3 separate regions of the Homo sapiens genome follow, and all the other regions are linked to region 3. Evidence: fine-mapped expression QTL. A gene starts in region 3. Each other region holds a variant in brackets. All regions are shown on one strand. Distances are between the middles of the regions.

Region 1 (10,014 bases), 37 kb before region 3:
CACTGCCTGAGGGATAGAGAGAAACCTGGATGCCCCAGCCCAGGCCCTCAAGGCTGAGGTCAGAGGCCCATCCTTCCAAGTCCATGCGGCCTCCCTCATCCGCCCACAGCCGTGAAGCTCTTCCTTGGCCGTCTTTGCTCTCCCCCACCCCTCCTGCCTCCTCTGGCTTGGCCTCCTGTGGCCGTGAGGAGGGCAGGTTGACTGTAGGAGTGGCCATAATTTCAGTGGCAGCCGTGGTCACAGAGAGAGGTGGGCGCCCCATAGAGGCCCTGCCAGAGTCCCTGGCCCCTGCCCGATGCCCCTGTTGTGCGAGAATAAGAATACTGCCAGCCTTTCCTGCCGGCGCCTTCCCGGGAGCCCCTGGCCTGGCCCTTCCCCGTGTGTGCCCCAGGCTTTCAGGCACAGCTGCACCATCACTACCTCTGAGGCCGCGTGGAGCCAGGGGCAGCCCCCAGGACATGCGAGGGGCTGGAACCACCCCAGTGATGGTCACTGGGGTTTTCTTTTGTTTCTGGCACATGGTTTAGGGCCCACATCGGGGCTGGGGCATGGGTGAGGATGAGGGTGGGGGTGGCACCTGCAGCACACGCTGTCCCCCTCAGGACGGGGCCCCGGAAGCAGCCCCCGCACCAGGTGGAGGTGGAGGCCGCAGAGCAGAACGTCTCCCGCATCTGCCACAAGATCTACTTCCCCAATGACACCAGTGAGGTGAGGCCCTGCTCTGGTCTGCACGGCAAGTCTCAGGCCTCCAGAGGCCATGGGGCATCCTCCTTCCTGGCCCAGCCTGCTCCTTGGTAACCCCAGAGAGCCTTTTCTAGGGCTGTCCCATCCTAACCAGTCTCCCGCCCTCTCCCCATGGGATGCAGGCCCCACCTGCCCTTGGGTGCTTTGGAAGTCAGGCCAGTCCCAAGGTATGAGTTGGGGGATCCAGGCCCAGGACACAGGAGAGGACAGAGGGGTGGGCAGCAAGGGTGAGTCCCAGGACTTGGGGGCCCCTAGGGGCTTCTGACCATCTGGGGTGCAGGAGAGCAGGTATTCCCACTGTGTGTGCCTTGTGCACAGAGCCTGCCATGGCTGCTGGGGGAACAAAGGGGCCAGGGGGCAGGTAGGAGACCACCAGGACCCCACCGTGACACAGAGGCCTTGATCAGGGGCAGCAAAGACAAGCGGGCTGAGAGGCCAAAGTGGGCAGTGTCGCCTCGCGCCCTCTCCAACAGCACAATGGTCTTTTTGGCCTTGATATTCGGGTCCCGGTAACAGGAAGTTCCCACAGTCTGGCTGCTGGGCTCTCAAGGCGAGTCAAAAGGCCAGGCCTGCAGGGCCCCAGGACAGCGAATGCTGGGACTAAACAACATGAACCTCTGGCCAGGGTTCTGGAAGGGAGGCTTGCCCTGCTCAGGGCAGACCACATCCAACCCAAGTTTCATGAAGGAGCAAAAGTGCCAGGCTAGGAAGGCTCATCCTGGGCTGTACTGGCCCCTAGCCAGGCCCCGGGCCTCACCAGCTGCCTCTCTGTCCAGATGCTGGAGGTGGTTGCCAACACACGGGTGCGGGATGTGTGTGACAGCATTGCCACCAGGCTGCAGCTGGCCTCCTGGGAGGGCTGCAGCCTCTTCATCAAGATTTCAGACAAGGTGGGCCGGGCTGGGGCTGGGCAGACGGTGGGCGGACGGGCAGTGAGCGAGGCCCTAGGTGCTGCCTGTGGGGGCCTCAGCCTACCAGGGGCACCCATGCTGGACCAGGCTGCACGGCCAGGGCTGCTGGGACAGAGGTAGGTGGGGTCCTGGAGCAGAGCCAGCTCCACACGCCAATAGCCCACGCACAGCCGACTCCAGCGCAGCACCCAGGCCGTAGGCGGCCACTGGACCAGAACCCAGCAGGTTCTCAGGAGGACAGTCCCCGGAAGCCACCCAACTTCCCTGTACCTTCCCCTTCCCCAGGTCATCAGCCAGAAGGAGGGAGACTTCTTCTTTGATTCCTTGAGGGAGGTGTCTGACTGGGTGAAGAAGAACAAGCCCCAGAAAGAAGGTGAGGAGGCCTCTGTGGAGCTGGGGGAGGGCGTGGCTGGGTGGGTCGAGGGGGCACTGGCGGCCTCTGTGCGGCCCATGCCCATTCATCCATCCATTCGTTCCCGTGTGTCCCTGGGTTGTGGGAACAACCAGGCCCTGGGGCCCGGCGGTGAGGGCCAGCTCAGGCAGAAACAGGTGGCTGCACCTTGGAGTGATGAAGGATGCCCCAGGGCTGAGGGGCATGACCCTCATGGGCTGGGAGTGCGAGTCCAGGAATGTTCCTGGAGAAGGCAGCCTCTACACTAATATTGAAGGAAAATGTGGGGACTGGGGAGGAAGAAGCGTGGGGGCTTTCGAGGCAGGGAGGTGGCAGGCGCAGTGTGGGGGGTGGCAGGGGGTCAGGGCTGGTGTACCTGCTGGGACAGGCTTGGTGCCCACTGCTGGCCCTCGCCCAGGGGCCCCCGTGACGCTCCCCTACCAGGTGTACTTCATGCGGAAATTGTGGCTCAACATATCTCCAGGGAAGGATGTGAATGCAGACACCATACTCCATTACCACCAGGTACCGGGCAGGCTGCCCTGGTGGGCACTGGGGCCACCCCCATCTTCCCACACCTGTTCTGAGGCTGTAGAAGCCAGCAGGCCAGGGCAGGGCCAGCCTCAGCCCTGGGTACCAGCCCATGTGGTAGGCAGACCAAGCCCCTGAGGGCTCTGGAACCAGGAGCAGAGGGCAGCAATGTTTGGGGACAGTGACTGCACTGGCACCTGCAGCATGACTTGGAGAGGGTGGGACAGAGGGTCCTGTGACCCATGGAGCAGTGGCCGTGGCCTGCAGGGCCAACCACATGGGTGGAGCAGGCCATCACCTCCACGCAGATGTCAGGGGGCCCTGCCCTGACTCAGGGTCATTCCCCTGGCCTGAAACTCTCTACCCTGCTCAGTCCGTCCTGGATGGAGTGGGCTAAGCCCCAGTTCCCCACCATCTGAGCGGGAAAGAGGTTGGGGGCGGGTGGGCCGCAGCTGGAGACCCAGCATGCCCAGTGTGTCCATCACCCAGGAGCTGCCCAAGTACCTGCGCGGATTCCACAAGTGTTCGCGGGAGGATGCCATCCACCTGGCGGGCCTCATCTACAAGGCCCAGTTCAACAACGACCGGTCCCAGCTGGCTAGTGTCCCCAAGATCCTGAGGGAACTGGTGCCTGAGAACCTCACACGCCTGATGTCCTCGGAGGAGTGGAAAAAGGTCCCTGGTCGGGCTGGGGAAGGGTTCTTGTGCTGCTGCTCCTCCCTGGGCCCCTGCACCAGTGCCATGCCCTGCCTGGGCTCCAAGATCACATGGGTGCACATGGGTGGTGTGGAGGGTGGGCTGGCTCTGCACACACCACGCCTTCCTATGCCATCCACAGCACCGAGACTGTCCCATGCTGCATTCCTCCCCTCCCCTCCCCACCGTACTAGCCCTGGGGTAGGCAGGTGCTGCCCCCACCAGGGCTTTGGAGGGCCTCTGGGCACCCAAGTCCTTACTGGCCCTCCTGTCCCCCAGAGCATCCTTCTAGCCTATGACAAGCATAAGGACAAGACAGTGGAGGAGGCCAAGGTGGCCTTCCTGAAGTGGATCTGCCGGTGGCCCACCTTCGGATCCGCCTTCTTCGAGGTGAAGGTAAACCTTGCCCCACGCCAGGGCCTCCTACCCAAGCAGGCTCCGCTCAGCCCAGCCCCAGCAGGCCCAGCGTCAACCAGCACACATCTTGGGTGGGGCTGGCCGTGAGGCTGGAGGGCGTGGGTGTATGTGTGTATGTGCGTGTGGCCTAGATGAGCTCCTGGGAGGTGCAGCCTGGCCTCCCGGGCTGGACTATGACCGCCGTGTCCCTCCCTCCCAGCAAACCTCGGAGCCTTCCTACCCGGACGTCATCCTCATCGCCATCAACCGACATGGGGTTCTGCTCATCCACCCCAAGACCAAGGTAGCTGCTGGGCCTCCGGAGGGGCTGGGGGCCACCAGGTCCAGGGACCTGTGCAGGTGGGGCTGCAGTCATCTCTGCGGTGTGTCCTGCCTCTCTCCTGTCCCCTAACACACACAGAGCCCGTGCTCTGGAGGCGTCCGGCCCACCCACCCTCTCTGCCCCCAGGACCTGCTCACCACCTATCCCTTCACCAAGATCTCCAGCTGGAGCAGCGGCAGCACCTACTTCCACATGGCGCTGGGGAGCCTGGGCCGTGGCAGCCGCCTGCTGTGCGAGACCTCCCTGGTGAGCTCAGGTTCTTTCTCCCATCCAAGATGCATAGGACAGAGCTGCTGGAGACTGGGTTCCCCACCCTCACCCCTTTCAAGTGGCTCACTAAGAGGGCTCAGTCACAGGGCCCAGGCGGGGCCAGCAGATCTGGAGAGGGCCTGGGTGCATCCCCAGGACCAGCAGCCAAGGTGGCAAGGCCAGGCGGGACCCCCTGCGCCCTTGGCCCATTCCAAGGAGGGAGGGAGACCCAGCTCCAGCAGGGCAAGCAGAAATGACGGCCCCAATGGCAGGAGCCCGCCTTCCCTTTCTCCATGCCCTGCACTGCTGGTTGCTGAGGAAGAGAAGGTGGTCCCTGAGTCCAGGACCCCCACCTGCCCTCTGCACCCACAGCCTCTGACCCCCCCGTCCCCTGTCCAGGGCTATAAGATGGATGACCTGCTGACCTCATATGTGCAGCAGCTCCTGAGTGCCATGAACAAGCAGCGGGGCTCCAAGGCCCCAGCCCTGGCCAGCACCTAGCAGCGGATGCTGGCGTGTCTGCTCAGGCGCCCTTCCCGACCTCTAGCCTGGCGGCACCTTCCCAGGCCCTCTCAACCCAGGGCCTGTCCTTGGCGGGCAGCCTTCCATGCTGCCCCCCATACAAAGCCCACTCAGCCCCGCAGGCGGCCCCCTCTGTCCTGGGCGCTGCCCAGGGAGGCCAAAAGACGGGCCCAGAATGGGGTCGGGAGTCTCGGACCCCCAGGCTATTGGTGGATGACTGACTGACAGGACACCTCCCAACCCCACCCCACCCCACCAGAATGTTCAATAAAAACTCCTGGAGCAGGAGAAGTGTGTCTGTCTGAGGGAGCAGGGTGTGGCACAAGGTGGACAGGGGGCCTGGGAGGCTCTGGCCCGCAGAGAGCTGCAGAAAAACCAAAATGCCGTGTGACTGACTCCCCCAGGGAACCCGGAGGGCAGCTGCATTCTCCAGAAATGACTTCATCCCTCCCTTTCTGCTTCCTTCCTCCCCCTCCCTTCCTTCCTTCCTGTTTCTCAGACTGGGGAGGGGCACTCATGGGAGAGTTCTCCTCCCAGGCCCCTCCTCACACCTTCTGTCCTTCTCCCCACCCGGGGCATTGATACGCCTGCGCTACCCCCAGGAGGCCAGGGTGGAGGTGCGGCTCTCTGGCTGCTGGCTTCATGCTATGGCCAGCTTATGCCCAGACAGACAGTGGGCAGAGCTGGACATAGCACCTTGGAGGCCTGGATTCCCCCACCTCGCTGGCATGCCCTGTCCCTGCCCACCTCCTCCTCTGCCCACTGGGCCAGCTTATGTGGACCTGGCCACCCAGGCTTGTGAGGACCTGGCAGGGCTAGTCTTCAACTGCTTATGGCAGCCTGGCCTGGGATAGAGGCTAGGGCCCCCTGAACTCGTGCCTGTCTATGTCTGTCCCTCTGTTCAACTGCCCCAGCAGCAGCGTGTCCAGAGCTGCTGCCATCCCCTCCACCCCCGACCCCCGCCACAAACCACGCAGGCTGCTGTGGTTGTGTGAACAAGCCTTCATTGTGCAAGCGTGAGCC[CAACA/C]AACAAACACCAGGTCTGCGCTGGCCGAAGACGAAGCGTCCTCCCTGGAGGTGGGAACAAGTCACCTCTGACCACACCTCCTCTGACGCCATCACCTCCTCCTGGCCCCACCCAAGGGCTCGACACAAGCCCCAAGGTCGGGGGGAGAGGGGCGGGGCGGAACCGAGGGCGGAGGCCAAGGTGGGATTCCAGGAAGGCCTTCCGAAGGATGGAGGTGGGTCCTGTCCCTCCAGGTAGCTTGTGGGTGTGGACAGCAGGACTTGCTGGCTCAGTGTGGGCACAAGGACACTGTGCCACTGGTTGAGTGAGTGGTGAGGGATTGGAGGTGGCTCCCAGAGGCCTCCATCTGCATGGCCCTGGCCCTGTGGCTCCAGCAGGCTGCCCTGGCTGTGGGTAGCCCAGGAGCCACATGCGCTTAGTGGGGCCGCTCTGGGGCAGGGGCTCTCACAGGACAGCATGAGCCACTGAGCCGCCTGGGGAGGGCCAGGCCAGGCGGGGAGCTGTGGTGCAATTTGCTCCTGTCCCTGGAGGTCTGTGGGCGGAAGCTGTGGGCACAGGTGGACATGGCTGTCAGACGTGGGGTCATAGGCTCCCACTCCCCAGCTCCTGCCTCCTCACAGACAGAAGCCACGGCCAAGGAGAGGAGAGACATGGGGAAGGCAGAGATGAGGGAACAGGAAGGGAGAAGGCAATGAGGAAAGAGAAAGGGAGGGTAAGATGCGGAGGGCACAGGTGGATGGGGACGAGGGGGCCAAGCATGGACAGCAGGAGGGGAGAAGGCGGAGGGGCCGAGAGGCAGCTGCGCAAGAGGGCCTTCAGGCAGAGTTGAGGTCTGTGGCCTTGGGCTGGGCCTTGCGGGAGGTCAGCTCCGACAGCTTCTTCAGCCGCTTCTTCAGCTCCAGCGGGAACTTCTCGTAGCACCTCTTACACACGGGCTTCATGTCGAACTCCACAAACTTGTTCCTGAGGAGGAAGCTGAGCTGTCAGCAGAGCCCCACGCCCACCCCTTTAACCCCAGACAGGTGACTGTGGAGTGGGCTTCCCTCAGCCCCCAGCCTCCCCACACCAGCCTCTCCTAGCCAGCAGGCCAGGCCCTAGGGTGAGATGGCCAGAGAGCATAGGGATGAGAAGGGCCTTGAGGCTTCCCTTGCCTCCCAGAGGCTTCTCTCAGGTTCTGAAACCCCAGAACCCTCTATGCCTCCCCACAGCCCTTGGAAACCTGGACGCCATCTCTCCTCTCCCAGCTCCAGCCATCCCACACCCCTCGAGGCTTCCTGGATGAGCAGCTGACACTGCTGCTTTTGCATATGCTGTTCCCTGAGCTGGAATGCCCTTCCCTCCCCAGAGCCCAGGGTTCTGGCAGGTGTGTTGGAGGCATGAGTGTTCCTCCTCCTCTCACTGTGCCTGGGGTCCCTGGGGTCCCTGGATCCCCTAGACCCCCTGAACCTGCCCCCATCTCCCTGGGTGGTATAAGGCCGGGCTGCCCCTTGTCCCCACCATATCCCCAGGCCAGACTCAGCTGGTGTGCAGGAGGGCTGCTGAGAGGAAGGACCTGCAGGAGCCCCCTCCACCCTGAGCCCCATCCCACGATCACAGGGACTCACTTCAGGGTGAGCTTGCTGTTGCAGGTGGAGCAGGAGAAGCAGCTCACACACCAGGCCTTGTTGAGGGCCGACACCACTGTGAGGGAAGCGTGGGACTCAGCAGGCCTGGCTAGGCTGCCGCAGGCCCGGCTGGGCTCACAGCTGCAGCACCCAGGCCCCAGGAGAGCAGGTGGGGTGGGGGAGGGAACACAGGGCCTCACCATCGCCTTCAATCACATGGCTGCAGTTGTAGCAGACGTCCCCGAAGAGCTGTGGGCCGAGCAGGCTGTCAGAGTAGCTGCAGGCAGTCACACCCCAGCCCAGGGCCATCATGCAGCCAGCCTGGCCCTCCAACACGGCCCCTCTCAGGCATCTCCCAGGCCCTGCCTCCCAGGGCCCAGCTGCAAGGCTGGGTTGAGGGCACGGCAACCCATGAGAACCACCCTTCCGGGAAGGACAACAGGCTGGGGCGTTGCTCCCCAGAAGGCCCCTCTGCTCTGGCCACTGCTGTCCTGCAAGGAGGTGGGCCCAGGTGGTGACTGCATCCCACCAGCGCCCCCTGCCTTCTGTACCAGAGCAAGGGAGGGAGGGGGTTGCTGGCACTGTCAGCCCCATGTGCCCGGGACCTCACACCAGCCCCAGAACATTCTTCAAAGGAAGACACTGAGACTGAAGAGAGCTGCCCAGGTCTCGAGACCCCAGGCCAGGAGCCAGGGCTGAGGGTGCAGGCCTGGGCTCAGCACCTGGCAGAGCTCCTGAGGGGGTGCCCACAGCCTCCCTTGCTCACGGCAGCTCTCCTGGCCACCCCTCCAGACCCGCATCCCTGAAGGTTCTGCACCGGGCTCACCTGGTTGTAGTGAGTCTCGCAGTAGGCCAGGCCCTTCTTCTCATAGTGCCGGTGCCCCAGGAATGGCTTCTCACACTTGGCACAGACAAAGTGCTGCAAGGACAAAGGGCGGGCCGGGTGGCATCAGGGCTAGAGCGGTGACCCCGAGGGACAGTGGTGACCCGGGGACAACAGTGACCCCAGGAGCCAGTGACTCCAGGGGACCACAGTGGCCCCAGGAGGCAGCAGTGACAGAAGGGGACAGAAAGCAGAGTCTGGGCAGGTGCAGGCCTTTCAGGATTCACACTGGGCAGAGGGGACTGACACCTCTGTGAATGCCCTGGGGTCAGCAGACCCTACCCCTCCTCTAAGGCACTGATGGTAACCTTGTGAGTCACCATCCCCTCCCAGTCTGGCCTCCCCCTCGGCAGCCTCAGCCCCAGGAGTCAGGTGCCAGCCTGGTGCTGCGGCATGGTGGGCCCTCATAGGCAGAGGCGGCCCTGCCTGTCCACGTGGGGCCTCCTGCAGGCACCCCCTGCAAGCCTGGGATCACTGAGCAGCACCTTGCATTCCCCCAGGGATCTGCATGTGAGGATGAGGGCTGGGGGCTGGGGCCTGCATCAGGGCAGGACCGCATGGCCTCCCACCCAAGCCGCCACCCAAGGCACAGCTTCCGGACACAGCGCTGGCCAGGTCATCAGGGGAGGTGGTGGGCTCACTGTTCCCAGTGTACCCATGAGAACATGAGAGCCCACCACCCGGTGGGGGCACTCCAGGTGACCCAGTGCTCACACCTGAGGAACTCTTCAGCTCCGTGTCTGCACAGGGCTGTCCATGCAGCGGGTTCTGTCATCCACAACCCCCAGGCACTCTGGACAGACTGCCCCCAAGGTTTTCTCCTGACCTTGGAGTCTCTTAGAATGCCAGCAGGGGGAAGAGGAGAGGTGGGCACAGCTACCCAACCGTGTGTGTGCACTCGGGTCTCCTGGCTCCCGTGGGCAGGCTGGGGTCCCTGGCTGAGCACAGGGAGGGGCAGTACCCCTGAGGAAGGGCCTCGTTGGGAGCCAGCCACCCGCCCTGGGCTGGGAGTGTGGAGGAGCTTTAGGGCTCTTACCATGACCCTGAGCTGGGGCACCCCCCAACCTGAGGCCACGTGTCCACCAGCCTGGCTCACCTCCACGTGCCACTGCTTGCCCAGCGCGTTGACCACTCGGCCCTCGATGGGCCGGCGGCAGGCCCCGCAGATGGGGACGCCCATCTTGTCATGGCAGGGCAGGCAGTAGAGCTCACCCTTCAGCTCGCGGGCCTCGGCTGTCAGCTCCTTCCTGGAAGACAGCGTGCAGCCCCCAGGTGCCACCCCTGCCCTTCTGCAGGGTCATGCCAGCAGCGCCTCCACCCCAGGGCACGGCTCCCCGAGGGGCCCATTCTGTCCCTGCAGAGCCGAGGCGGCAGCGCCTTCTGATCTCTGGGCACTTTGAAGACTTCCTGTGCCCCAGACAGGCCCTGGAGCACAGACTTCCTGCACAGCCCAGAAGAGTGGGCTGTGTTCTGCACCCAGGCCTCTGAGAAGCAGGTCTGTTCTTGGGCCCCCCTCCTCCTCCAAACCAGAGGGGGTGTCTGGATAGGCACGGAGAGGACTGGAGGGGACGGTGGGGGTGGGCGAGGACGGGGGCTGAGGGGCTGCCTATGCAACTCCTCTCTCCAACACCAGCACCAAGCCCACTCCCGGTCTCTTGCCCTGCCCCCTCAGGTCCCTTCCACTGCTCCATCTCAACCCTCGTCTGCAGTCTAGGGG
Region 2 (10,014 bases), 26 kb before region 3:
CATCCCTCCCTGGACCCCAGGACCTGCTACTGCTGGGTGTCTGGACTCCATCCTGCACAGCACTGTGCTCCATCTGCCCTGGGGTGTCTCATCATCAGCTGTGTGCAGGGCAAGGGGCCCAAACAAAGGCCCAGCAGTCACTGGCTAAGCTGCCGACTGGCTCTCTGTGCCTCCCCAAGACCCTATGTGCCCAGCAGGGGGCAACAGCTCAGGGTCAGCTGACCGAATGCCTCGGTGAATGAATGACTCTACAAGAGAGGAAGGGAGCCTCGGTGGGCATCATCTCCCCTCGACTACTGGCCAGAGCCCTGGCTCTTACACCCCAGCGACGGGAAGCAGTTGTGGCCTGTGGCTTCAGTCTTCATCACCACAATCCCTGAAGCCCACCCTTGCCCAGACACCTGTGCCCCAGCCCCAACCCCAGGCCACCTCCTCAGCAGGTCTGGGGCTGAGCTGCCCCACCTGGCGCCTATGGCGGCCAGCCCATGCCCCCTGCGGTGCCTCTGTCCCAGACTCAGCATGTAGGCCCCATGACCCCACTCCACATTCTGGTGACTCCTCCTGAGCGTCAGGACAACACTCAACCCACGAGGAATTATTTCTGTCTCAAAGATGCAGGAATCAGCTCAACGCCTCAAAACTCCATCACCACGGTCAATGCCCTTGAAGCCATCGACAGTGATCACCCCAATAACAGAAGGTCTGTGAGCCCAGAAATGCCCTGCTCAGGGTGGTTAGCTTCAAGCCACCACCTTTCCAACCAGCCTGGGCCAGTTCTTCCAGACAGCCGCCTGCGGGCACAACAGGAAAGAGACCTGCGCCCCGGCTCAGACACCTCACACCCAGCTGGCTCTCAGGCCAGACAAACTGGGAAGCCCATCTCTCTTGAAGGAAGTCCAGATGGGAAACAGCTTCTCAACAGACCAGATCACAGCATCAGATCTAAAGGTGGCCTTCAGAATTCTTTTTCAGGTTGAATTAGGATCAAATCTAAGAATTCTAAATTCAAAATGCAGCAGAAAAACAAAACACACACACACACGGAGCCTAAGTTCTGGAGTGACATGTGCTTGGGTTCAAATCCTGGCTCTGTTGCTTCCTACTGTTTGTTGATGGGTGAGTTTCTTCATTTGCCTGAGCCTCAGTTTCCTTGTCTGTAAAATGGGGCAATAATCCCAGCTGCACAGGGTGATGTGAAGAGACAAATTTAAGACACTGCCCCTTAAATGCTAGCCACATACATACAGTTTTCAATGTTTAAACAACAAAATGTAAAGTCTTTTGAAACCAGGAAGGGTGATTTGGTTTCCCATGTTGCTGGATGTATCATTTTCAGAAAGACAGAGAGAAATGAACTTTGTTCACTCAGTCTCAGAGGCGGCCGCCGGCAGCATTCAAAGGCACCCCAGCCCGGAGCCACCCCAGGGAGGAGCCCCAGGCCAGCGGTCAGATTCATGGGCTTCCGTGCAGAAGGGGAGCTGCACCGGCGAGCACCCGGCCTCTGAGCTGAGCCGCATCCTCACGGACAGGACAGCGCCCCATTATGAGGCTCCTGCAGCTGTTCCTCGCTCCAGATAAAGGCCATGATTTATTCTGTGTGCCCAAATGGGGCCTCATTATACAGGGCAGGACACAAGGACCCTACAGCAAGTGTCCTCAAAGAGTCGCCTCTCACTCCGTGAGCAAGACTCCTCGGCCTCCCACCCTCCGTTCACAGGCCCCCTCCGCCGTCTGCGGGCGCAGGCCTGGGAGCGCCGCCTGTTGCCATGACAGCCGGCCCCTCCCTGCCCCCCATCAGTAGGAAATCATCCCCTTCTGAAACGTCCTGTTGTGTCCCTCAGCTCCAGCCCAAGCCCCCCACCCAGCCCCCGCCTGCTCTGAGTCTCTGAGACAGTCACACACTCAGACTATGTGGCCAAGCTGGGGGCGGGGGGCATGGGCTAGGGACACACTAGAATATTCACGCTCCGGTGGCAGCAGCAGCAGCAGCCAGAGGAGCAGCCCGACACAACAAGGGACCCCTCAGGAATGAAGCAGCCTTTCAGGGCCAGAGGGGCTGTGGTCTCCCTTCCTCTCCTTAAATAGCCAGCGTTCCACCCACAGCGGCAAGGAGCCCCCTGCCACCACCGACACCCACGGGCGGAGATCACCTGCTGCCCCGCAGACCCCTGTCCCTTCCTCCCGGACCAGCAGCTAGAGGTAAGGGGCAGGCTGGGTGGGGTGGACTGGGAGCCCAGGGCTAAGCAGAGGAAACACTCAGCGGGGAGCCCTGCCCAGGGAGACAGGCAGCAGCCTGTCTCGTCCCATCTCTTTGGTGATGGTCTGACCTGTGCATCGAAGGCTGACCACAGTCTGAATTCACAGCAGCCCACAAAGCGGTGTTTCGTCCCTCTGATGGGGGCTTGCAGAGGGGAAGTGGCTTGCCGGCAGTCCAGGCTGCAATGACAGCACCGCTGCCCCTAACCATTAGGCAGCCTTGACCCATAGAGGAGCCAGATGCCTGGGAGAGGGCTCGGGCCAGGGATGGAGTGGCGCTAATGCAAAGGAAACTGCCACCACCTGGCCATGGCGCTGCCACCACAGGCCCTCCCCGAGGCCACACATGCCCACCTGCCACCTCCACAGAGGCCTATGACCTGTCCTAGATGCTCGACTCACCCACAGCCACGGGACCCAACACTGCCCAGGCCCCGGCCCATGCCACGCCCTTTCCTCTTACGGACACCGGCTCGGTGGCCGTCTGACCAGTGAGTCGTGAGGAACCAGCGAGTCTAGACTGAAGTTTGTGTTTCTAAAGGGCAACAGAGAGTGAAGCGGGGCCCATCTCAGACCAAACTGCAACAATCAGTATCAGAACTCCTCAAACGGGGGACAGAAAGGGAGAAGAAACCTCAGCAAACCTGAAACCAACCAGAAAGCTGTTTAAAATGGAGTCTCAGTCCCAGAGAGAGCGAGGGGCACGCCCTTCGGCCCGGGCAGGAAGTGGAGGGCAGTGCCCAGGCTGAGGCCCCCGGGCTGGAGGCAGGAGGCACCACAGGCCCACCTGGTGCCATGAGATATGCCACCCCTGCCGTCACTCAGGGCCCTGAGCCCAGTAACACTCTGCCGTCACTGTCCTGAAACTCTTCCTTTTTGAGCAAGGGGCTGCACATTCTCATTTCATACATGGGCCCCTAAAATGAGGGAGTGGCCCCAGGGCCAGGAGGGGGTGCTGAGCCTGGGAGACAACTCCATGGCAAACTCTGAGACTGAGTCACACTCCCCACCCTGGCGGTCTTCCAGGGAGTGAGACCGTTTCCCCGGTCTCACTTCCAGCTCCAGGGCCAATGTCCCCTGGTCAAGTGACCTAAGACAAGTTAGCAGACACTCAGCCTTGACTCCCTAACCTGCAACATGGGGCTAAAACTGGTTTGAGCCAGCACAGGCAGGCCCCCACCATGCCAGGCAGAGTGGTCAGTCGTACCTATGAGCTGCTCTCTCGTGGGGCCAGGTGATGCCTGCACTGTGGGGCACAGCACAGGCCTGAGGGACAGCCTGGGGTGGAGGGCACCCACCTTGGCCCCTTCCCACCCCCAGGTTCTAACAAGGGCCCCTCACTCACTGGGCCCCCTCTCCTCTTCCAGTCTCCAGGGCCTCCCCGCACACACCTTCCTCCTCTCCTGCCAACCTGAAAACAGCACACCTGTGTGCCCCTCCCATCTACCATGGGCTGTCCTCTCTGCTTGCCCATGCGTCTGCCCTGGAGCCCTGTTCCTCCAGTCTCCGGGTCCTCACCCCCAGCACATGCAACACGACACCCTCAAAGTCATGGGCCCCCCTCCCCTGCCACCGTCCCACCGGTACCTGCTCCCTGTTCTCCCCTGCCTCACAGGCCCTGTCAAGGGCTGTGTTCCTCCCTCCTTTTACCTCTCCTCCACAGCCCCCTTCACAGCCCTCAGCCCTTCCCCAGGGCTTCAGCCAAGCCTGTCTCCCTCTCCCAAGCATCACTCACCCCGCCTTCTTCGGCCCTCAGCTCTCCGCCCTCACCGTGGTTTTAGCAGTCCTAGGGAAAGTGCCAGCCGAGACCAGCCAGACCAAGTCAGAGTACTGTGGAACCTGGATTCCTGGGGAATGGGGTCCCCATGAGGAACTCCACATTGGACTAAGAACAGACCCTGTTCCTGGAAGCAGCAGGAAACCATCTCTGGTGTTAGAACTTCAGGCATCTTGAAACACTCTGAAGCCGGGGGCAATCTTTTCAGGTAGGGGAACCTGCCTAGAGAAATAGCTAAAAGGTAATATTATTAGGTAGTTGCCCTCCCCTTTGCTTGAGGACATTGATGGCCAGGTGCTCGGGCCAGCCCTCACCCTCCATGTGAGGGCCACAGCAGCTGGCCACTCGCTCTCCTGAAGGAAGGGTGCGGCCCACCCTTCCCTAGGGCTAGGGCCACCACCATGCCTGCTTCTCCTCCATATGAGGATGGCTCCAGCCTCCTCCTCGAGGGGCTGCTGTGTCCATGAACAGTCACCATGCCCTCTCTGCCCCGTGCCACCAGCATCCTGAGACAGCCCTGTGGAATCAGTAAGAGGAGAGGGGCTGGGCGCAGTGACTCATGCCTGTAATCCCAGCACTTTGGGAGGCCAAGGAGCACTTTGGGAGGCCAAGGAGAGAGGATCACTTGAGCCCAGGAGTTTGAGACCAGCCTGGGCAACATGGCAAAACCGTCTCTACCAAAAAATACAAAAATTAGCCGGGTGTGGTGGTGTGCGCCTGTAGTCCCAGCTATTCAGGAGGTTGAGGTGGGAGGATCACTTGAGCCCTGGAGGTTGAGGCTGCAGTGAGCTGATTGCACCACTGCACTCCAGCCTGGGTGACAGAGGGAGACCTTGAAAAAGAGAAAGAAAAAAAGAAAAAAGAGAGGGAGGGGAGGGGAGGGGAGGGGGGGAGGGGAGGGAGGGGAGGGGAGGGAGGGGAGGGGAGGAAGGGGAGGGAGGGAGGAAAGAAAGAAAAAGAAAGAAAGAGAAAAGAAGAAAGGAAGGAAGGAAGGAAAAAGAAAAGAAAAAAAGAAAAAAGAAAAGAAAAAAGGAAAATAAAGAAAAGCAAGCAAACAAGCAAAGCGAAGTGAGAGAGAGAGGAAGGTAGGAAGGAAGGAAGGAAGGAAGGAAGGAAGGAAGGAAGGAAGGAAGGGCAGGGAGAAATGTGCAGAGTGAATTTGCTGCAGGCAGGACCCCGGCTGTTCGGTGCAGAGCCAGGCTCGCCCAGGATGAGGACCCTGCCAGGGCTGTGGCCCGTGCCTCCTCCCCTCCTGCTGCCACAATGGGCACAGGCAGGATGCCAGCTTCTCTTATGCAAACCTCTCTCCAGCCTCTGCTTCAGCCTGGCTGTGCAGGGTGGGGATGGTGGATACTGGGAAGCCAGGTGCCCAGAGGAGCCCCAGAAGCTGTGCCATCATCAGCACCCACCTGGCCGAAGCCCGCTGGTGACCCCAATTCAAAGGCAGGCCAGGTGCGCTGTCCTGCCCTGGTTCCGGGCTGCGGGCTGCTCTGGCCCCACCGCCTGCCCACACTGCCACTC[G/A]CAGGCCTGGGTTGGGGAGGCAGAGTGTTTGGGACCCTCACTCTCCTTCTTCAATCTTCTGAGTTGACTAAAATCAAAACAAGAGTGGGTTTCTCTGCTGAGGGTGGGGAGCACCCTATCCAGACCCAGGGTTCACCAGACGGACATGACTTGTTACCCAGGACTGTCACAGGGCTCTGCACTTGGCCTTCAAACGTGGGCAAGCCACGAGGCCTCCAGGCCTCTCTGGGGCTGCAGATCCGTCCTCAACAGCGCTGGCCAGTGTCTCTGACGCTGGGTAAAATGGGTCTTCCCCTCCTGGAAGAGATGCTGCCCCCTGGTGGTGGATCTACTCTGGGAGAGAAAATACTCCCAGCTGGCCTGATACCCAGGCACAGGCTTCTCCTAAACACAGGTCTCCCCACCTGTCAGGATGTCCAAACGGAGTTGGTGGGCTGGATCCAGAAAGCCCCCAAGAGAGATGCTGAAACTCTCAGGTGGGTAAAAAGAGTAGACCTCTGACGTCCCAGGGTACAGCCCTTGCTGCCATCCTGGGGGCACCCTCCTAAGTGCCAGGGGCAAGCCATGGTCAGGGGAAGCAGAAAGCGGTGACACCCCGGCCACTGCACCTGTGGGCAGGTGGGTCAGGGAGGGTCCAGGCACTCAGGATGAACAGAACTCACCTGCCAAGGCTTGGGCTGAGGAGGAGCTGGAATCCCGGAGACACACTGCCCCCGCCCCTCACCACCCCTGTCACTCAGACAGCACACCTCAGAGGCAGAACAGAAAACCCAGAGCCTCACCCAGGCAAGGCTCACGTCCCATTCCCCGCCATGGCACTGACCCGGTCCTCCCAGCTCTGAGGAGCCTCAGATCTCCTGGGTGGCAGGGGTGCAGCTGCATAGCGGCGAAATTCCAAGCCCTGGTTCTGCGTTTGCCTTGTGCTGAAGTTCAGAATGCCTCTGACGCTCACGCACACCAAATGGACAAGGAGGTCCCCTCAGCAGCCCCGTGGGCGGTGCTGAGCTTGAAAGTGGGAGGTTCTGAAGGCATTGGAGGCCTGACTTCTGGACTTCAGAGAGCGTGAAGCTGCCTAGATCGCAAGCTCATTGTGAACTGTTTGCTTGTTCCCTCCAGGCTCTGACTCCAGCCAAAGCATGAATGGCCTTGAAGTGGCTCCCCCAGGTCTGATCACCAACTTCTCCCTGGCCACGGCAGAGCAATGTGGCCAGGAGACGCCACTGGAGAACATGCTGTTCGCCTCCTTCTACCTTCTGGATTTTATCCTGGCTTTAGTTGGCAATACCCTGGCTCTGTGGCTTTTCATCCGAGACCACAAGTCCGGGACCCCGGCCAACGTGTTCCTGATGCATCTGGCCGTGGCCGACTTGTCGTGCGTGCTGGTCCTGCCCACCCGCCTGGTCTACCACTTCTCTGGGAACCACTGGCCATTTGGGGAAATCGCATGCCGTCTCACCGGCTTCCTCTTCTACCTCAACATGTACGCCAGCATCTACTTCCTCACCTGCATCAGCGCCGACCGTTTCCTGGCCATTGTGCACCCGGTCAAGTCCCTCAAGCTCCGCAGGCCCCTCTACGCACACCTGGCCTGTGCCTTCCTGTGGGTGGTGGTGGCTGTGGCCATGGCCCCGCTGCTGGTGAGCCCACAGACCGTGCAGACCAACCACACGGTGGTCTGCCTGCAGCTGTACCGGGAGAAGGCCTCCCACCATGCCCTGGTGTCCCTGGCAGTGGCCTTCACCTTCCCGTTCATCACCACGGTCACCTGCTACCTGCTGATCATCCGCAGCCTGCGGCAGGGCCTGCGTGTGGAGAAGCGCCTCAAGACCAAGGCAGTGCGCATGATCGCCATAGTGCTGGCCATCTTCCTGGTCTGCTTCGTGCCCTACCACGTCAACCGCTCCGTCTACGTGCTGCACTACCGCAGCCATGGGGCCTCCTGCGCCACCCAGCGCATCCTGGCCCTGGCAAACCGCATCACCTCCTGCCTCACCAGCCTCAACGGGGCACTCGACCCCATCATGTATTTCTTCGTGGCTGAGAAGTTCCGCCACGCCCTGTGCAACTTGCTCTGTGGCAAAAGGCTCAAGGGCCCGCCCCCCAGCTTCGAAGGGAAAACCAACGAGAGCTCGCTGAGTGCCAAGTCAGAGCTGTGAGCGGGGGGCGCCGTCCAGGCCGAGCGCAGACTGTTTAGGACTCAGCAGACCCAGCAAGAGGCATCTGCCCTTTCCCCAGCCACCTCCCCAGCAAGCAACCTGAAATCTCAGCAGATGCCCACCATTTCTCTAGATCGCCTAGTCTCAACCCATAAAAAGGAAGAACTGACAAAGGGGATCCATCGGCCACCCCTCTGCAGGGGCTTGTGATGGCTACAATGGCTCCTAGACACTCAACGACTTCATCTGTGGCAGGGAGAGAGGAGGCCGGAAGAACAACCCCTGAACAATGGAGGCCTTTCTTTCCCGCTAGGCTCCCAGCCTCCTTCCCGCTACAGAATCGCTCATCGGCGAGGCTCAGCAGAAAGACCCTGAAGGCAGGCTGCAAATGACCCAGAAGAGGGACCTGGGAGTCCTGGTGGGGACGGGGAGGGAGTCTCAATACTCCTTTGCAGTGCAAGGTACTCTGAGTCCCCTCTGTAGTGCCTCTGCCAGACACACACTGCCTGAGTTGAAGAGACACAGGCCACACATTTCAGGCTGGTTGCCAGCGGACGTCAGCACTCACGGCCTGCAGGGACTCAGCACAGCTCTGGATTCTGGATCTCTCCTGCTGTAACCCCACGCACAAGCCTGCAACCCCCAGAGCTCTTTGACAGGCTCCCAGGCCTCCCAGTCCTGGACAAGCATGTGCAGTCACGGGAGCTCAGCTCAGGCCAGGGCTGGGCTGTGCACCTGCCTCCCACTGACCCAGACCCACTTCCTCCAGAGAGGCCTCTCTCCGCCTGAGCTATTTCCCTTGCTAGTGTGCAGATATTTCCCTAACATGTCCTTTTTTGTATTTGTTTGTACGGACCATAAATATAACTGTAGCTTTAAGACTACACAGGTTGTTATGTTTGGTCAACATGAAGCGTTTCCCAGAACTTCTCTGACCCAAGAATGGTGAAGTGGTGGTACAGTGGCAGAGGCAGCCTCGTGGGCTCTCTTGCTGGGGCTCTGGCAGCTCACAGCACATCTGCCCAGATTCTGAGGTTCTGCACTGTGGGGCTGGGAGGGCCAAGTAGGGGCCCTCATTCCTCACTCTAGCTGCCACCCTGCACCGTCCTTACGGCAACATGCTTTTGTAGCATGTTTGACTTTCCAAAACGTTTCCAGCATCTTTCAGATTTCCCCAACCAGCCCTTGGGGCAGTGGCCCTGTGCAAACCTTGGCTCAGGAAGGAGATTGGGCTCGCTCCACACACCCTGTCGGCGACGTTGCTGGTCAGCACGAGCTCCTGGTGCTGTCCCTCGGCCCCTGCACTGCACCGTCTGCCCCTCAGCCCTTCATTTAGACAAGCTGCTCAATGCCAGGCACCGCCCAGCTCCGAGGACAGTGGGCCGGACGCCAGGCCCCAGGCCACGTGCCTCTCTCACGGGCAGCACACGGACAAGAGCTCGGTAGTGTCGGGGAAGCATCTCGGAGGAGCTGCGGGAGGGAGCAGAGTGCCCGGACAGAGAGAGTGTGGCAGGGGAAGCATGGCTGGGGCCTCTGGGGGTCGGCGCTGCCTCTCACTGATACAGGGGACGCATGCAGAGGCAGCCTTGGTGGTCAGTGGAGGAGAATCCCAAACTGCTTGTGCCTCATTGCGTTTGGGATGCCTGGTGGACACCAAGTGGAGGTGACATGTGGGCAGCTGAGGACAGCGAGAGAGAGGCCTGAAGTGGAGCCTGGAATTCTCCAGACACATGTGCCATTTAGGGCTCTAGGATTCTGTCTGCAAGGGCAGCCATGAGGGCCGGGCACGGAGCCCCAGACGACTCCCCATGGAGAGACAGGGAGAAAGGTGACTCAGAGGAGGGGAGTGAGCAGGTGCAGCTGTGGGGGCGGGCAGAACCACAGGAACTCAGGGTCCCGGGTGCCAGAAGGGGGGCGTTTCTGCACCTCAGCAGCTGTGGTGAGGGCTGCTGAGGGGTCAAGAGGAGGTGTGGGTCCCTGGGCAGATGAGGCCAGGGTAGCACACGCGAGGGGCAGCGGGTGTGCTGGGAGAAGCCGGGGAGGAAGGCCCAGCAGTGTTTTTAACCCAGCTCCCCAGCCCAGTCCTTCAGAAAGGACGAGAGAGTGGCGTGGAGAAGCAAGCCCTGGAGAAAGTGTGGGGATGAACAGGGCTCACAGACAGAGGCCGGGCTGCACGGGATCTCAGAGCTAGGGCCAGGGGAGGTGGGAGACAAGGCCACCTGCTATAGGGACAGTGCTTGGGAAGGGAGGATGAGAGACCAAGGGTTCGCAGAAGGTGGGAACTTCTGGAGTACCCATGAGGTT
Region 3 (10,014 bases):
TCATACATTCCTGGTGTAAAATTTAATAAATGTAAAATTGTTCAATTACTTGGAAAACAGCTTGATAATTCCTCAAAAAGTTTAACATAGAGTTACCATATGCCAGCAATTCCAGTCCTAGGTATATATTCAAGGAGAAAATGTATGTTCACACCAAAACTTGTATGGGAATGTTCATAGCAGTATTATTCACGGTAGCCAAAAAGTGGAAACAATGCAAATGTCTACCACGGATGAAGGAAGAAACAAACTATGGCACAATGGAATATTATTCACCCAGAAAAAGGAATGAAGTACTGATTCATGCTACAATATACGGATGAATCTTGGAAATATGTTGTTAATAAATGAAAGAAGCCAGGCACAAAAGGCTATATAATATATGGCTCCATTTATGTGAAATGTCCAGAACAGACAAATCTGTAGAGACAGAAGGCAGGTTACTGGTGGCCAGGGCTGGGAGGAGGGGGAAATGAGGACTGTCTGCAAATGAGTACAAGGTTTCTTTTAGGAATGATTAAAATGTTCTGGAATTAATGGTGATGGTTGCACAGCCTTGTGAATGCACGAAAAACCACTGAATTTTACAATCTAAAGTGGTGAATTTAATAATATGTGAACTATGTCTCAGATTTTAAAAAACACGTGAGTAATGAAGAATGCAACTACATGGCTTCTTAGAGGCTGGAACTGAGGCCCCAAGCTATGAGGCAGGGCTGCCTCCCCAAGGCCCTGGGGCACGTGCCCTCAGCCCAGTGGGCAGAGGCAGAGACGGACAGAGGCAGAGATGCCACAAACAGGCTGTCCTCCAGAGCCAGCTCCCCCACCAGACTCCTCGCTGGGAGGCTGAAGACAACTCCATGAGTTTCCCGTGTATTCCTCCAAGGACGTGGGTGAGGACACAGTAGGTTTTATGTTCATATGTGTATTCAGTCACCTCATCTCAGCAAGACATATGCATTCACTCATGGAGGTATCTCACTAGGGTGGTCATCCTGCTAAGTCATCTAAGTAAATATTCACCTTCAGAAATGTACACGCTACACCTCAACAGAACAAGCAAGACAGTGACAGTGCCTCCCTTGGCCCCTTTCCCACCTGGAAGTGAAGACCTAAGGGATGGTTAAGCCTGCATGCAGGCTGGGCACGGTTGTTCACGCCTGTAATCACAGCACTTTGGGAGGCCAAGGTGGGTGGATCAAGAGGTCAGAAGATCAAGACCACCATGGCCAACACGGTAAAACCCCATCTCCAATAAAAATACAAAAAAAATTAGCCGGTTGTGGTGGTATGCACCTGTAGTCCCAGCTACTTGGGAGGCTGAGGCAAGAGAATTGCTTGAACCTGGGAGGCAGAGGTTGCAGTGAGCTGAGATCACGCCACTGCACTCCAGCTTGGGTGACAGAGCGAGACTCCATCTCAAAAAAAAAAAAAAGAGCCTGCATGCGGCACAGCACAGATAGGGACAGACAGAAGAAGGATAACCCGCTGTGGATAGAAAGCCCGGGCTCCTCTCCCCAGTGGCTCCCTGGGCTGTCCCTTGCCAGTTCACAAGTGCTGACTGTTAACTATTCAGGAATTCCGTAAAGCGTTAATGCCATGTTGGTGGCTTGAAATGAGCCCAGGTGGGGGTATCACACCACGGGACTGGACACCCTGCAGATCAGTCCCTCCATCCCTATTATGCCACTGGCCGGCTAGAAGGGGCCAGTCAGCACCAGAAGTAGAAGAAAAAGGAAGGAGGTGAGGGGCCATGGCAGTGCCACCTGGCCCAGTCTGGGGCTCAGGGCTCAGTGGTGCCACATCACAAGCCACATCACTTGTTACCCACTTTACAGTTTGCTTAAGCCCCTGACGCCACTGCAGCCTCGTGTGCTGTGCTGAGGGCTCTAGCTGCAGTCAGCTGCCCCTTGGCCGACACCTTCTGCCTAGGGGACCACCGGGCACACTCCTCACCCGGAGGAGGGGCAAGATTGGTGGATATGAGGGCAGGGATCTAGCAGCCTGCTCTGCGCTGTACTAAGCATGGGCTCAGCACACAATCAGGCATACGACAGCCTCACATGTGACACACATGACGGTCACACCATGGGTGGGACTCCACTTTATGCAGCCAAGCCACTGAGCTCACGTGGCCGTGGGTGTCAACATCCCAGGCTCCATTTCCAGGAATGCCAGGGACAGCTGGGTCCCTAGGTAGGTGGCCTTAATATCCTCCCTGTAGAACAATGGTGATGCCAGAGGTCCCTTCAGCTGTGATAGTCAAAGATCTTGTGGTTGTAAGTTGCAAAGTCCCTGAGTTGCTGCTGAGGCCGAGCCCCCTCTCTTCCCACGGCGTGCCACCCCATGCTCTGGGCTGCCTTCACTCCCTGCCCAGCTGGCTACTCCTGGGCTTCAGCCCCTCCATGCCCAGGTGCCTCCCACGGCTCCCCCTCAGACTTGCCACAGCTCTTCAAGCACTCCACAACCACACCAAGCATGCCATCCACCCCCACCTGTCATCACAGGAGGGGCATCCTCCCGAGCCCCACCCTCTGTGGCCCACCTCACAGCCAGTCAGTTGGGTCCTGTCCACTCCACCTCCCAGAACCCTGAGTCAGCCTCCTCTCCTCCACCCGCTCAGCCACCCAGGAGAGGCCTCCCTAGTGGCTGCCTTCTGTCTCCTTCCCCATCTCCTTCCCAGCAGCCCTTTCTCCACACAGCACCCATGGGTTCATCTGCAGACAGCATGGCCACACATGCCACTCCAGGTCACTTTGGTGGCTCCCCACAGCCCTCCCTCTGCTCTTGCCTGGTGAGGTCCTAGGGAGAGCTGGCAGGGAGAAGCCCTGAAGGTATGCGAGCAGAGAGGGTGTTTCCCAAAAGCAGCCTGGCTCTGGGCAGCATGGGGGATCCCGAGAGAACCAGGATCCAGGCACGAGGAGCTGCCCGGGATCACATGGGAACAGTGGACGTGGGGAAGGGCACCCAGCATGAAACGGTGGAAATGAAACTCCACTGCTTCTGGGACAGGAAAACTCTCGCCCACTCCGAAGGCCGGGTTGGATGTCTGTTCCTCACAGACTGGCCCGGCCCAATCCCTGTGTATGGAAGGCAGGGAAGCCAGTGGGGCACCAGCACTGCGGGCAGCAGGGTCACCTTTGAAGGAGCGGGTGCATTACACTCAGATCGCTCACAGCTGCGTCAAACAAACTCCAGGAGAAAGGACTGCGGGGAGCCACCGAACTGCATAAAGGGAGGCTCTTGGGAGTGGAACTGTGGCAGTTTCCTTCTCTTTATGTTTCTGTTATCTTTTATGTTTCCAGGTTTCTCCTTATTCTCTAAGACGAGTAGTATTGCCTGGACGAGGAACGCCCTACACAGTGCCTGCCAAAGGCTGACTGTCATCCCTGTGTCATTTGAGGGTAAGAGTTTCTCAGGCCCTTGGAGCCCACAGCAGCAAGGGAAGGCTGACCCCTGCTCGCCACCACCTGCCTTCCCAGCGGTTCCGGCCGGGCTCACCTGACGGCCTCCGTCTCCAGGGAAAGGCCCAAGGGACTCAGGGGCAAGAGGACCCTTGCCAGGGAGCAGTGGCACCTCGGGGCCTCCCATTCCAGCCCCGCACCCTTCACGGCTCTGTTCTCCTCGACATCCCTCCTGTGCCTGAAGGAACCGCCTCTCACCCACCTCCACCTCAATGCTGCTGCTGGGGCTGCTCCGGACCCTGTTCCTGTCTCTCCCCACTTTCTTTTCCTAGAAAACAGGAGAGTGAGAACCAGCCAGCTGGCAGGGATGCTCTGAGGAAAATGGGAGGCAGCCCCGCTAGAACCCTAGGGGGTGACCACAGGCAGCCAGTGGGCCTGCAGATGCCACTCTCCGGGGGATGAGTCCCTCCATCTCACTGCAGAGGGGCCTGGGCCAAGGCTTAGAGGTGACTCCAAGTCAGGGGAGCTAACTGGGAAGAGAGGCTTGGGGAGAAGAAAGGGAAGTGTGTCTGGAGGGCAGGACTTACAAAGTGACAAGTTACAGGCTATTTTTGGTTCCTGGGCTGCCCTGAGACCCCAGGCCACAGCCTTAATGGCGATCACAGAGGCAGCTCCCCTGTGGGCCTCGGATTTGAGACTGCAATCCTGGACACTGCCCTGTACCCTCCAAGCCCCTTTCCCCAGCAAAGCCACAGGTCACTCTCCGGGCTGGGGCTCCCCAAGAGCCCCAGGTCATGGGATCCTGAAGAACAGCATCCCCCTGCCAGGACTTGGCTGGGGGAGACCAGGGCCTCAGGGACAGCCCCCTCCCACCCAGTCCTGAGTCATGCACTTGTACCCAGCTAGGTTCCAGAAAGGGCTGCAGGGACAAACACTGGCCGGACACTGGTGGACCTGTGACTGGCCTCCTGAGTGGCTCAGCCTCTGTGGCCTCTGGTGACCTCATCTGTGAAATGGCAACGAGGGGCCTGAGAGCAGAGGGTGGGCCAGGCCCAGGGGAGCGCCCTGTCCCCAACCAACCCCTGCACAGCTGGTGCTTGGGCGCAGCTCTGGCCAAGTTCCAACATACCCTTCAACATTTTTAACATTTTTACCACCCCAGGTTTACAGAGGAGGAAACGGAAGGCTCCAGAGATGACACTCACCGGGATCGGGGATCGCACAGCGCGGGCTCGGGGAAGTTGGGGGAGGCACGCAACCTTTGAACCTTTTGCCCGTGGTTGGTGTCTGACCTTGGACAAGACCCCCTCCCGCAGCCCTGGGCGTCGGTTGTGAGCAGACGGCTGTCCCATCTTGCAGCGGGCGGGTGGGCAGGAGCTCCACCTTCCGCTGCAGGCGCTCGCCCAGAGGAAGAGGCGCGGGGGCTGGGGGACCCCTGCCCCGACGGGCGCTGCCGCCCCGGCAGCTGCGAGAATCCGACGCGCCAGGGCGGAGCGGGGATCGTGGCGCCGCGGGGCTGTACGAGGGCGAGCTGCGCCTCGGCCAGGGGTCCCGCAGTCCCGCCTCCCCGGCCCGGGGGCGTGGGTGGGGGCCGTTACCTTCCCGTCATGGTGGCAGCGACGCCGAGCCCTGGGTTGCCGGGGTTGCCGCGGGTCTCCCTCTGCTGCTGCAGCCGCCAGCCGAGCGCCCGCCCGCCAGCCCGGGCCGCGGAGCAGGGAGACGCCCAAAAAAGGCCAAGAGCCGCTCCGCCCGCGAGAGGGGTGGGCGGGGGTGGCAGGGTGGGGCCCGCGGGGCGGGGTGGGATGGGGAGGTCAAGGCTGAGGGTGGTGGGGGTGTTGGGGAGGTGACGGTGGGAGGTTGCGGGAGTATAGGTGGGGGTGGGGGTGGCAGGTGGGGGTGGCGGCGGGTAGGGTTGGAGGGGTGGGGGTTAAAGGTGGGGCTGACGGTGGGGTTGGAGGGGTGAGAGTGAGGCGGGGGTGGGAGTGGGGGTAAAAGTAGGGGTAAAGGTAGAGGGTGGGCCCCGCTCCCGCACAGCCCCAGCTCCAGGGACACGGAGCGCGGCCAGCGGCGGGCGCGGGTCAAGTCCTTCCCAACCCGGGCTCTGCTCGCCACCTCCTGGATTCCGGGCATAGCTTTCCTTTTAAAGGGAGTAAAGTTATAATAAACGCGAACAAGCACCCCCACCCCCACAGCCCCGCCGGGACGCCCCGCCCGGCGCCCCCTCTGCAGTCCCTGGGCCGCCCCAACCGCAAACGCGTGCAGGAGATGGTAGGCGTGGGGGCGATGCTGAGACCACCTCCCTCCCGGGCTTTCCTAGCCCGGAGTTCCCACCGCGGATCTGGGCACTGACTCCCTCCCGAGGCACCCGGGACCGCCGAGTCCACGCAGTCCCGCCCCCAGGGAGGCTAAAGCCGAGAGGCGTCCCTCTTCAGTCGCAAAGCTGCTTTCCCCGGGAAATTCCGATTTCATCCCCCGTTGCGGGCCATCGCCCTAACTTGGCGAAAGATATTTCTTAAACGACAAAACCAAATGCCCAGCTCCCAGGTTTCCAGGGGAACCAGGCACGCCTCTGTATAATGAAGCGCTGAGAAGCTACCATTAGAGGCGTTAAGATGGAGGGGTAATATAAACTATTTAGGGAATCTCTTCGGAGGAAATTTTCAAACAAACAAAACAAAAAACCCCCGCCCTGCCTAAAGGCAGATATTTCCAGCTGGACAGTGGCGTGCAGCTCATCTTTGGAAGCAGCCCAGATGTCACACTGAGGTTTGGGAGCTGGGCGGCCTGATGTGTAAATGTGGTGCTACTCCGGTCTTGGCAGCAGAGAAAGATGATCTAGAAATGACGGTGTGAATTAGCAACCCACAAATAAACTGGTGCCGTTCAGAAAGATGAGTTGATAGTATCCTGCAGTTCCACCTGCAGAAATAAGCTGGGAAAAGACACCTGTTCCTAAGTGGCTGGTATTGTGGAGTGCCTTTGCAGTTGTTACTTTTTTTTTTTTTTTTTTTTTGAGACGGAGTTTCGCTCTTATTGCCCAGGCTGGAGTGCAATGGTGCAATCTCCGCTCACTGCAACCTCCGCCTCCCAGGTTCAAGCGATTCTCCTGCCTCAGCCTCCCAAGTAGCTGGGATTACAAGCATATGCCACCACACCCAGCTAATTTTGTATTTTTGATAGAGATGGGTTTCACCATGTTGGTCAGGCTGGTTGCAAACTCCTGGCCTCAGGTGATCCGACTGTCTCGAGTTATTACTTCTTGTTGCGAGCGTGTCTCAGCTGATTCGGCTTAACTGTAATTTGATGGTTGATTAAGCTTAAGTATGGATAATTTCTTGGCTCACCTGCTCATACAGGGAGAAAGGCTTTCCACCATTACTGACACAGAGGTGTAGGCATGCTGGGGCCGTGCACCAGAAATCCACTGCTGGACGGTTAATTGAATATCAGGGTCTTGTGGGAACCAAAGAGGATGAAAAGTTGAAAGCATTACACCAGAGGCCCATGCTCTCCACAGAGGAGACCACATTCCTGCCTTTTAGCCCAAAAGCCTCCCTGCATATGATAGCTGAGCACACACGGATCTGTATGTGGCCAAACCAGGACCCTATGCAGCTCCCAGTGTGCCTCATCCCTGGGCCAGGGCAAGCTCAGTAACAGCTGGTAGGGGTTGTGGGCATGGCTTAGCCCTGCTGGAGATGCAGAGGCTTCAAGGAGCCAGGGCCAGCCTCCCACAGTTCAGCCAAGAGGGCAGAGTTGCAGGAAAGAGCTGGCAATCACACATTCACACACTTATCCACTTGTTCCTTCAAGAGTATTTATACCGCATGGGCACTGGAAGTACTAGGGGGAGAAAGAAGCCATGGACCAGGCTCTCATGGAGTTTAGCAGGAGGTGGAGGATGGGCAATAAACAAATAAATAAATACGCAAACTAGATTTTAGACAAGGGTAAGTGCTGCAAAGAAAAGGACAATGGTGGTGGCTGCTTTAGAGTGAAGGGTGAGGGAAAGTTTCTGAGCAGGTGACATTCAAGCTAAACCAGAATAAGGGAAAGAGCCAGCCCTCAGCCATCTGCAGGAAAAGCATTCCGGCAGAACAGCAAGTGCAACAGCCCTGAGGTGACATGAGCTTGGGGTACGCAAGGTCAGAAAGAAGACCAGTGGGTCTGGAAAAAGGGGAGGTGGCAGGTGGAGGGGCACGGGAAATAAAGGAGAGGGCCCAGGGCAGAGCAGCAGGGCCACAGCAGAAGTAGGATTCCACCCTTAGATGGAGAGTTCTAAGCAAAGACAGACACAACACTCTAGCATCAGCAGGGGTGAATCTCAGAAATACTGACTGAATGAAAAAAGAGCACCTTTTCCATCTATATCAAGTTCTAGAATAGGCAACATTTGTCTGTGGTAGAAAAAATCAGAACGGTGGCTGCCTCAGGCTGGTCTATTACACCCCGGACTGCCCTGAGGTGGCAGGACAGGGGTTGACTAGGAAGGAATGTGAGGGAGTTTCTGGGGTAACAGGCAATGTTTTAGTAGGAGTTTGGGTCACACAAGTGTATATGCCTTTGTTAAAACTCATGGAATATATGGCCAGGATTTGCACATTTCATTATATGTACATTTTACCTCAAAAGAAAAATACCGTAAACGATACTGAACTCCAGTTAATGACATACAATGCTGAAGTGTTTAGGTAGAAAGGTACTGATGTCTGCAACTTACTTTGAAATACATTGTTTAAATCAAGATGAGCCGATGTGGTGGATCCCCGTAGTCCCAGCTAGTCCTTAGCTACGGGGAGGCTGAGGAGGGAGGATCACTTGAGGCCAGGAATTCAAGACCAGCTTGGGCAACATAGCATGACTCTGCCTCTAAAAAATGAACTCAAGATGGGGAGATGGGTAAAGGGAAGGACAGAGAGGTGGTAACGTGAGTCTACGACGATATTAATGGGAGAATCTAGGTGGTGGGTATCTGGGTTTTCAACTTTGATGAGTGCTTGAACTTTTTCATAGCAAAAGGGGGAAGTGTCCCTAGCTGCTGTGTGGCCACTGTGTGAGGGACAGAGTGGTCTCAGGGACAGTCTGATTAGAGGCTATGGTGAGCGTCCAGGAGGGACTGGTGCCTTGGGCCGTGCGACAGTAGGGACATTGAGAAGGCATCAAACACAGGATCTATTTTGCAACCAACAGGATTTGCTGGGAATCTGGATGTGTGTGTGTGGCCGGCGTGGGCGTGGTCAGCACAGGTGTGGTGGTTGTGGGGCAGGTGTGTGTGTGGCAGGTGTGAATGTACAGCCGTGGGAGTCAAGAGGACTTGCAGGTGGCCTTGCTTTCCTAGATATTGGTGGCAGTGGGACAGTCTGGGCAGGTTAGCGAGGGGTGACGTTGCATTGGGCCCTCCCCAGGCATCCCAGGGGAGATGGTGGGCGGGGCACTGTGAACCTGGAGCAGGGAAGAGAGGTCCATTCTCCAGCGTAGATGCAGAAGGCTTGGTACAAATGGAATTTCAACTCTAGGGCTCCATGGAGACCCTGGGGTGTCTGTACCAGTCAGGAGCCCTCCAAGGGTAAGAGGTGGGACTGGCAGAAAGTGAGGGGGAGAGCAGGAGAGTGTGAGGTGCCACAGAAGCCCGGAGGGAAAGAGCTCCAGGGAGGAGGTGCGCCACTGCCCCGTGTGCACACTGCTGCGTGCAGAGGCCAGGGAAGCATCTGGGTTTGGGTCAAGAGCCGGTCCCTTGGAGTGAGGGGCCTGAGTCCAGCTGCAGAGGGGCAGGCAGGGCCCCTGCAATGCCTCCCCCAGGAGCACCCCTCCCTGGGGTCTGTGTAGATGGTGCTCCCCAGAGTGCTGCACACAGTGCCCCTGGGGGGAGAATGCTCTGAAAGGGGGGGCAGAGAAGAGACGGCAGTTGGAAGTGGGGAGGGGAAGGGGAGGGAAGGTGAGAATGCAGTGTCCATTCCCAGGTCTTATGGGATGGCATCACTGAGGGACATTCAGAGAGTGGCTTGAATCACACACTTAGTCTTCGCTGGGGGACAGTGGGGCTCTGAGGCTGAGGCTGGGCCACAGAGTGACATGACAGCTGTCCTAGAAGGTGAAGGAGGTGCAGCATCTCCCTGGGCACGAGCCTTCTGCCCTCTGGGGTTCAGGGCAGGTGGGCACCCCCTTTGCTGGGCAGGTACCCGAGTTTCTCCACCCCCCACCTTCTCCCTTCCCTACTCCAGGGGACAGCTACCTGAGACAGCCCAGGGCCCAACGCTCGTGGGAGCTGGGACCCAGGGCCAAGAGAGGGGCTGGGCTTGGTCAGCGTGGCTAATCAGCAGTAGGAGGCTGAGGAGAACCCGGGGTCTCAAAGTGCCTCAATGAGCCTCCGCCAATATCCAGAGCCACAGCCCTGTCCCCATGTGACCACAGGGAATGGAGAAGGCCTTGCAGCTCTCAGGAGGCCTCAGGGTCTCCTGCCACAGCCCAGGTCCTGGGGCAGGAGCTAGCATGCCTTCCCAACAGGTAGGCTGTTCATCCTGCCTGTTCCAAGAATGGCCCCGTGTGATGTGAGGCCACCCAGACGGCCACTCTACAAGGCCTGTGCCCCAAATCTGGTTAAGGCCTGTCC

What was found. PIP is the estimated chance that this variant, and not a neighbour inherited with it, causes the effect.
Region 1: its variant is fine-mapped to the expression of LIMS2 in whole blood (INTERVAL, PIP above 0.99).
Region 2: its variant is fine-mapped to the expression of LIMS2 in esophagus muscle (GTEx, PIP 0.96).

Annotation. Positions count from the first base shown.
Region 1 is chr2:127,632,656-127,642,669 of GRCh38, forward strand. MYO7B (myosin VIIB) reads left to right here. Exons shown (of 48, transcript NM_001393586.1): 40 at 603-708; 41 at 1,521-1,634; 42 at 1,941-2,028; 43 at 2,465-2,571; 44 at 3,067-3,252; 45 at 3,553-3,669; 46 at 3,890-3,973; 47 at 4,139-4,258; 48 at 4,661-5,071. The coding sequence ends at 4,762. It overlaps LIMS2 (LIM zinc finger domain containing 2), which reads right to left. Exons shown (of 10, transcript NM_001161403.3): 6 at 9,394-9,544; 7 at 8,241-8,333; 8 at 7,615-7,663; 9 at 7,415-7,490; 10 at 5,771-6,773. The coding sequence ends at 6,626. Among named protein-coding and RNA genes, the nearest start is that of MYO7B-AS1, 6.9 kb to the left of the region's middle. RefSeq lists silencers at 162-251, 352-401 and enhancers at 672-901, 3,198-4,144, 4,145-5,091, 5,092-6,038, 6,039-6,984. The variant CAACA/C (reference allele first, on the strand shown) is at 5,807.
Region 2 is chr2:127,644,046-127,654,059 of GRCh38, forward strand. All of the region lies in intron 4 of LIMS2 (LIM zinc finger domain containing 2), which reads right to left. GPR17 (G protein-coupled receptor 17) reads left to right here and starts at 2,108. Exons shown (of 2, transcript NM_001161417.2): 1 at 2,108-2,199; 2 at 6,671-8,594. The coding sequence starts at 6,691. The coding sequence ends at 7,710. RefSeq lists enhancers at 4,915-5,642, 5,669-5,963, 6,369-7,096, 7,097-7,822, 8,242-8,301 and 1 more. The variant G/A (reference allele first, on the strand shown) is at 5,555.
Region 3 is chr2:127,670,012-127,680,025 of GRCh38, forward strand. It overlaps LIMS2 (LIM zinc finger domain containing 2), which reads right to left and starts at 5,519. Exons shown (of 10, transcript NM_001161403.3): 1 at 5,003-5,519. The coding sequence starts at 5,013.